2 linked regions of the Homo sapiens genome follow. The protein of the gene in region 1 purifies or fractionates together with the protein of each later gene. This does not show direct contact. Each region holds a gene or a part of one and is shown in the gene's direction. Other genes may lie near its edges. The genes, in order: RPS6KC1 and DENND6A.

Region 1 (3,924 bases):
CTACTTTAGAAAAGTTTGGCAATTTTATAAAAAGTTAAACATAAGCTCATTATGTGACCCAGCAATTCTGCTTCTAGCAATGTAATCAAGAAAAATGAAAATATATGTCTACACAAAGACATGTACATGAACGTTAATAGCAACATTATTCATTATAGCCCCAAACTGGAAAGTCTAAGTATCTAAAAACTAGTGAGTGGATTAATGAAATGTGGACATCCAAACAGTGGAATACTAAGAAAAAGGAATGGCCTGTTGATACCTGCTACAGTGTGGATGAATCTCAGAAACATAATGATAAGTGAAAGAAGGCAGCGTCAAAAGACTACATATTTTATTATTTTACTTATATGAAATGTTCAGAAAGGGCAACTTTATAGAGACAAAAGGCAGGTCAGTGGTTGCCGAGGGCTGGGGATGGGGGTGGGGATTAACTGTAGATGGCATGAGGAAACTTTTTAGGGTAATCAAAATGTTCTAAAAGGCCGGGTGCGGTGGCTCACGCCTGTAATCCCAGCACTTTGGGAGGCCGAGACGGGCGGATCACGAGGTCAGGAGATCGAGACCATCCTGGCTAACACGGTGAAACCCTGTCTCTACTAAAAATACAAAAATTAGCCGGGCATGGTGGCGCGCGCCTGTAGTCCCAGCTACACGGGAGGCTGAGGCAGGAGAATGACGTGAACCCGGGAGGCGGAGCTTGCAGTGAGTCGAGATCGCGCCACTGCACTCCAGCCTGGGCGACAGAGCGAAACTCCGTCTCAAAAAAAAAAAAAAAAAAAATGTTCTAAAACTGGATTGTGATGCTAGTTGCACAACTCTTTAAATTTACTAAAAGTCATCAAATTGTACACTTATAAGGGATGAATTTATATAAATTATCCTTCAGTAAAGTTGTTAACACAAAAATTTGACATTATTAAACCACAAAATTTTTTTTTACTTATTTTACACATGATTCCTATTTCTGAAGAAACCAAAACTTGTTTCATTCATTATATTAAATTATTTCATTTGTGTCAACTATGCCAAAGACTAGTGATTTTGGAATACTAATCAGCTTATTCACACTTTAGGTAAAGTTTAGTCTCAATACATACATAGTTGATTAGGGGTCGAAAGATTTACTGTGCTTCCCAAATTTTCTAATCATGAAGGAAGTAACTGGCTATCTCAGAATCTAGTGCAATATCTAATTAATGTCATGGTGTACTTTTGGGGTAGGAAATTGATAGGTATAACTATCCTATTATATTACATGAGGATGAGGGAAACAAAGTAAGTTACTCAAGGCCATGTTTCCCATCAGTTGAAAAGCCATAAACTCAGTTCAGGTGTCTCTCACACCCCACAGCTAGAATGGTATTAGACATAGCTCCCTTTCAAGAAAAATGGTCACTTGGCTATTAATCAAGACTGCTTGTTACCAGGGTTGAATTTAGAAGTTGTTTCTTTTCAAATATTGGTTTTCCTTTGATTTGCCAGTTGGATTCCTGTTACTCACTAAGTCCGTCTTTTTTTAGCTCTTGCAGTTCAATCCTCTGGAACGACTTGGTGCTGGAGTTGCTGGTGTTGAAGATATCAAATCTCATCCATTTTTTACCCCTGTGGATTGGGCAGAACTGATGAGATGAACGTAATGCAGGGTTATCTTCACACATTCTGATCTTCTCTGTGACAGGCATCTCCAGCACTGAGGCACCTCTGACTCACAGTTACTTATGGAGCACCAAAGCATTTGGATAAAGACCGTTATAGGAAATGGGGGGGAAATGGCTAAAAGAGAACAATTCGTTTACAATTACAAGATATTAGCTAATTGTGCCAGGGGCTGTTATATACATATATACACAACCAAGGTGTGATCTGAATTTAATCCACATTTGGTGTTGCAGATGAGTTGTAAAGCCAACTGAAAGAGTTCCTTCAAGAAGTTCCTCTGATAGGAAGCTAGAAGTGTAGAATGAAGTTTTACTTGACAGAAGGACCTTTACATGGCAGCTAACAGTGCTTTTTGCTGACCAGGATTGGTTTATATGATTAAATTAATATTTGCTTAATAATACACTAAAAGTATATGAACAATGTCATCAATGAAACTTAAAAGCGAGAAAAAAGAATATACACATAATTTCTGACGGAAAACCTGTACCCTGATGCTGTATAATGTATGTTGAATGTGGTCCCAGATTATTTCTGTAAGAAGACACTCCATGTTGTCAGCTTTGTACTCTTTGTTGATACTGCTTATTTAGAGAAGGGTTCATATAAACACTCACTCTGTGTCTTCAACAGCATCTTTCTTTCCCCATCTTTCTATTTTCTGCACCCTCTGCTTGTTCCCTCATATTCTGTTCTTCCGACTCCTGCTAACACACATGCAACAAAAAAGGGAAGGGAGTGCTTATTTCCCTTTGTGTAAGGACTAAGAAATCATGATATCAAATAAACATGGTGAAACATTAGATCTCTTCTTCATTTAATAACCCTCCCCCCTTTTTTTCCTTGAAGAAATGCGTCTGTTCCTTTCCTTGTGAAATATTATCAGTTTCTACCATTGCTTCTCATGCTTGACTTTGTTTTACTTTTTGGCTTGGTATACTAAGAAGCAAAGGATCTCATCTAAATGGAATTGAATGGCAGTCCTAGTTTGTTACTTATGGTGATGAGATTTTCAGATTTGAACTAATCTATTTGACGTGATTTAGAAAGAATGTAAGTATTCACACATCTCCAAACATTTGTATTTGTTACTTCTTTTTGTTGCTAAGGTAGCTCCTGTAGTTATGCATTGTTGCAAAAATTTACAAATGTTTTAAAAGTGTTAACATCTGTTTTTTTTTAAACGTTAGCCAAAGAAGAAGTCACTATTTCCAAGTTAGAAACCACCAGAAATAATTGAAATTTTTGATATGTTCTAATCTTCTTTGCATTTTTGAGATCTGTGTGAGAGCCCAACCCCACTCCAGGAGCATCTGTACAGCTTCCATCTGCCATCGACCAGGTCCTCTCATCAAATTAAATGGAACAGAAAATGCTCTAGTGAAACAAAGGAAATGTGCAAGCATTTTTCCTTTTTCTATTATTCTATTTCCCTTTTTCCTTTTTGGCCCCCTTATAATCCAAACCCCAGCTGAAAGGCTGCAACAACACCAGGTTGGGGAGCAGGTCACCAGGATCATAGTTCAGTCAAAATGACATCACTCCCTGGAACTAGATTTCAACTCACTAGTCCCCTGGCCTCATAACAGGAACTTATGCAGGTGAGACACAAGAATGACTTCCTGTGTAGGACTAGTAGGAAATCTGCAAGTACTTAGAGCTGGCCATTACAGAACTTCCTTCCAGAAGTGCCCTGTGACATGAAAGTAGGACTTCACAACTAAGGTGAAGATCCCTGCCCTACCACATGATTTGAGTCTCTTGGATTCAAAGGACATTAATGTCAACAGATGGTTGCCATGTCAGTCTGTTGACACAATTCCATTGCTTCAGTTTCTCCCCTTTTCTCTCTATATGTTTGGTTGGAGCTTGTGCCTAATGTAAATACATCATTCATAATTAGAATGGACATTAATTATTTTAGTAATAAACACAGGATAAATAGCTTTGGGGTGATGAACCAGAGTCTGTTTTTATTTTATGGTGTGTACATATTTTAAGCTGTACTTCTGTGAATGGTACTGATTTTTGTGGTTGTTTTTTTTTTATATTTTGTTTGTTTAAGCAGAAGAGTGGAATATGGGGTCAAAATCATAAAAGAAGTTGCCATGAGTGTTTCTCATTTGATTTTTTTATCGTAAAATATACATAACATAAAATTCACCATTTTATCCGTTTTAAAATATACACTTCAGTAGTGGCATTAAGTACATTTTTGTGCGACATCACCACTATCCATCTCCAGGACTTTTTCGGCACCTC
Region 2 (3,924 bases), on another chromosome or scaffold:
CATGCCTCAGCCTCCTGAGCAGCTGGAATTACAGGTGTGCACCATCATGCCTGGCTAATTTCTGTGTTTTTAGTAGAGACGGGGTTTCACCATGTTGGCCAGGCTGGTCTCGAACTCCTGGCCTTAAGTGATACGCCCACCTCGGTCTCCCAAAGTCCTGGGATTACAGGCGTCAGCCACCGTGCCCTGCCAGGGTCTCTTTTTTGATTCAAAGTTTTATGAAAATCAGGAGACTAAGTTAGCAACAGTATGGGCATGAATTTGGGGCTGTAGCTACACATGAGTGTCAGTCTTTCTAGAAACTTGGAAATTATAGTGAAAAAGCCATAGATTCTACCATGATAGCATCTAACAGTAGGGGACTGTTACCATTTTTTTTAATGTAAATAGTATAGTATAGCAAATATAAAATAAAGATTGTCTTTATAGTGAACTCACTTTTTTTTTTTTGAGATGGAGTTTCGCTCTTGTTGCCCAGGCTGGAGTGCAATAGCACAATCTCGGCTCACTGCAGCCTCCACCTCCCCAGGTTCAAGCAATTCTTCTGTCTCAGCCTTCCAAGTAGCTGGGATTACAGGTGCCCGCCACCACACCCAGCTAATTTTTGTATTTTTTAGTAGAGACGGGGTTTCACCATGATGGCCAGGCTGGTCCTGAGCCCCTGACCTCAGGTAATCCACCCACCTCACCTTCCCAAAGTGTTGGGATTACAGACGTGAGCCACGGTGCCCAGCCGTGAACTCACATTTTCACAGTATGGGATGAACAGTATTCCCTAAGCTAAGAACTCTTATGTTTTGCTCCGGTAAAGATTATTTTCACAGGATATTGCACAATGAACTTCACATTAAATTACTTCAAGGTGAAGTTCTAGTTTTTTAAATATCAAGTATAAATGTATATTTACATAGCAATTGAATCTGATAGTTATCCATTGTTTTATATTCCAACACTAGAATACAGATTCTCATTATTTCCTCTTTTAAGGGTGTACAACAGAAACGTCCTTCTGAGGCTCAAAGTGTTATTCTTCGACGCTATTTTTTGGAACTGACACAAAGTTTCATCATTCCATTAGTAAGTTAATAAATAAATTTTTGCATAATTTAATGATTTGGTGAAGGGTATATAAATGTTTTTCCCGCCCTCCAAAACCATATCTTAAGTTGTGTGTTTTGCCAGCCTGGTATATTTAGTGATTAAAAATAAACCCCTTTGCAAGAGACCTGGATTATCTGTTCTAGTGTTAACTGTTCAACTTTGGTAAGTCACTCCCTCTCTCTGACCCTCAATTTTCTCACCTGTGAAATATGGCTGATTCCACTTTCCTAAGTACCTTTTCAAGACTGTTGTGAATCTTAAATGATATACTTTATATGAAATGTTATGTAGTTACTACATTTTTCACCTTAAAAGAAGATTATAGTAGAGCTTCTTTCTGATACTTATCTTGAATACAATTTGATATAATGTCTATGAGGCTGTAGCTCTATGATAACAGGGACTATATCTGTCTTGCTTGTTATTAATTCGTCAGACTGGCATATGGTAGCACTCAAATATTTATGGAATAAATGACTAGACAATGTGGTTATTGTAAGAAATTCAGAAGGATGTCATATTAAAGTATAGGGAGTACCATGATGTGGCCCTGCTCTGGAAACTGCATCATAGAGAAACTTTTTGCAGTTATTAATATAAAGTAATATATCTATGAACATTATATAGGGCATCCTGGAGATCTTTGCTGTTATATTTTAGAAAGAAATATTATTTCTTGGTCTTTGGGTGTCAAGTTATTTATTCCATTAAATCTATTTGTTTGAATAAATAAACTTTACTGTAGTGCTTATGAGCATGGACTAGGCTGGGCACAGTGGCTCAGGCCTGCCACTTTGGGAGGCGAAGGTAAGAGGATTGCTTAAGGCCAGGACTTTGAGACTACAGTAGGCTGTGATTGCACGACTGCACTCCATCCTGGGCAACAGCAAGACTCTCTTAAAAAAAAAAAGAGCATGGACTGGGCGTGGTGGCTCACGTCTGTAATCCCAGCACTTTTGGAGACTGAGGCGGGCAGATCACGAGGTCAGGAGATCGAGACCATCCTGGCTAACACGGTGAAACCCCGTCTCGTCTCTACTAAAAATACAAAAAATTGGCCAGGCATGGTGGCACGCACCTGTAGTCCCAGCTGCTCTAGAGGCTGAGGCAGGAGAATCACTTGAACCCGGGAGGCGGAGGTTGCAGTGAGCTGAGATCGCGCCACTGCACTCAGCCTGGGCGAAAGAGTGAGACTCCGTCTCAAAAAAAAAAAAAAAAAGGCCGGGCGCGGTGGCTCACGCCTGTAATCCCAGCACTTTGGGAGGCCGAGGCGGGCGGATCACGAGGTCAGGAGATCAAGACCATCCTGGCTAACACGGTGAAACCCCGTCTCTACTAAAAATACAAAAAATTAGCCGGGCGTGGTGGTGGGCGCCTGTAATCCCAGCTACTCGGGAGGCTGAGGCAGGAGAATGGCATGAACCCAAGAGGCAGAGCTTGCAGTGAGCCGGGATAGCGCCACTGCAGTCCAGCTTGGGCGAAAGAGTGAGACTCCGTCTCAAAAAAAAAAAAAAAAAAAAAAAAGAGAGCAGAGACCAAAGTCAAGTAGACCTCATTTCAAGTCTAAATTGTATTACCTTGGTCAGGTTATTTAGCCTTTTGAAGAAGCCTCAGTTTCCTAATAATACCTACCACATAGGATCATTCCAAGGATTACAAGAGATCATGCATGTAAAATGTTGAGTGCATTATCTGGCCTATAGTTGCTCAGTAAGGTTAACTATTATCGTTAAAAAATGGACCGCGTTGTTGGGCGCGGTAGTTCACGCCTGTAATCCCAGCACTTTGGGAGGCTGAGGCAGGTGGATCATGAGGTCAGGAGTTCGAGACCAGCCTGACCAACATGGTAAAACCCCATCTCTACTAAAAATACAAAATTAGCCAGGCGTGGTGGCGCACGCCTGTAATCCCAGCTGCTTGGGAGACTGAGGCGGGAGAATCGCTTGAACCCGGGGGGCAGAGGTTGTAGTGAGCCGAGATCATGCCATTGCACTCCAGCCTGCGCAACAGAACAAGGCTCTGTCTCAAAAAAGAAAAAATGTAGTCCCCTTGGTTTATCTAAGATTTAGTTGAATTTTTATTTGAAATCTGACTTCCCAAGTCAGTCTAAATTTAGCTATATCTCTTGTGGGGAGTGATGGAGTTGTTGCTGTCCATTGAAAGGGCATATGATTAAAAACTTAAAAGACCCATTCCTTTTAAGTAGGTCTGTTTAAATATTTTTGAAGACACTCCTTTTATTAACTTTTTTCTTGGTTTTAGGAAAGATATGTGGCAAGCTTGATGCCTTTGCAGAAAAGTATTTCCCCATGGAAGGTATGAATATATTCAAATCTATTTGGGTCCTCTAACTGTAATTAACTTCTGTGAACATATCCACTCCTAATTTCTAAATATTATATGTCCTGTTTTCTAGAGTCCACCTCAATTAAGACAGTTTCTTCCAGAAGAATTTATGAAAACACTTGAGAAAACAGGACCTCAGCTAACCTCTAGAATAAAAGGCGATTGGATTGGACTTTACCGGTTAGTCTTTTTTCCCTGTTTTACACCCATGTGTCGTGCTTTATTTAAAAGCAAAACAAAAAGCTAAACTTAAGCTTATTCTTTTTAAAAAATTCTACTAAAGTTTGACATGGTTCTCTGACTAGGAAAGGTATTGAGGAAAGGAAATAAGTTATAATCAAACTTTACTTTTTTAAAATGTATTTTTATAGGCATTTCCTAAAGTCTCCAAATTTTGATGGCTGGTTTAAGACCCGGAGGAAGGAAATGACCCAAAAATTGGAGGCACTCCATCTAGAAGCTCTTTGTGAAGAGGTT

Evidence for each region.
Region 2: the proteins of RPS6KC1 (region 1) and DENND6A purify together in Homo sapiens (affinity purification with mass spectrometry; 2 studies listed by BioGRID and IntAct, with this or other methods). This does not show direct contact.

Annotation. Positions count from the first base shown.
Region 1 is NC_000001.11:213,271,001-213,274,924, forward strand, and holds the end of RPS6KC1 (ribosomal protein S6 kinase delta-1), read left to right. Parts: intron 1-1,523; coding exon 1,524-1,634; 3' UTR 1,635-3,774; downstream 3,775-3,924. UniProt on the Homo sapiens protein: May be involved in transmitting sphingosine-1 phosphate (SPP)-mediated signaling into the cell. Plays a role in the recruitment of PRDX3 to early endosomes.
Region 2 is NC_000003.12:57,630,418-57,634,341, reverse strand, and holds part of DENND6A (protein DENND6A), read left to right. Parts: intron 1-987; coding exon 988-1,077; intron 1,078-3,363; coding exon 3,364-3,417; intron 3,418-3,517; coding exon 3,518-3,627; intron 3,628-3,818; coding exon 3,819-3,921; intron 3,922-3,924.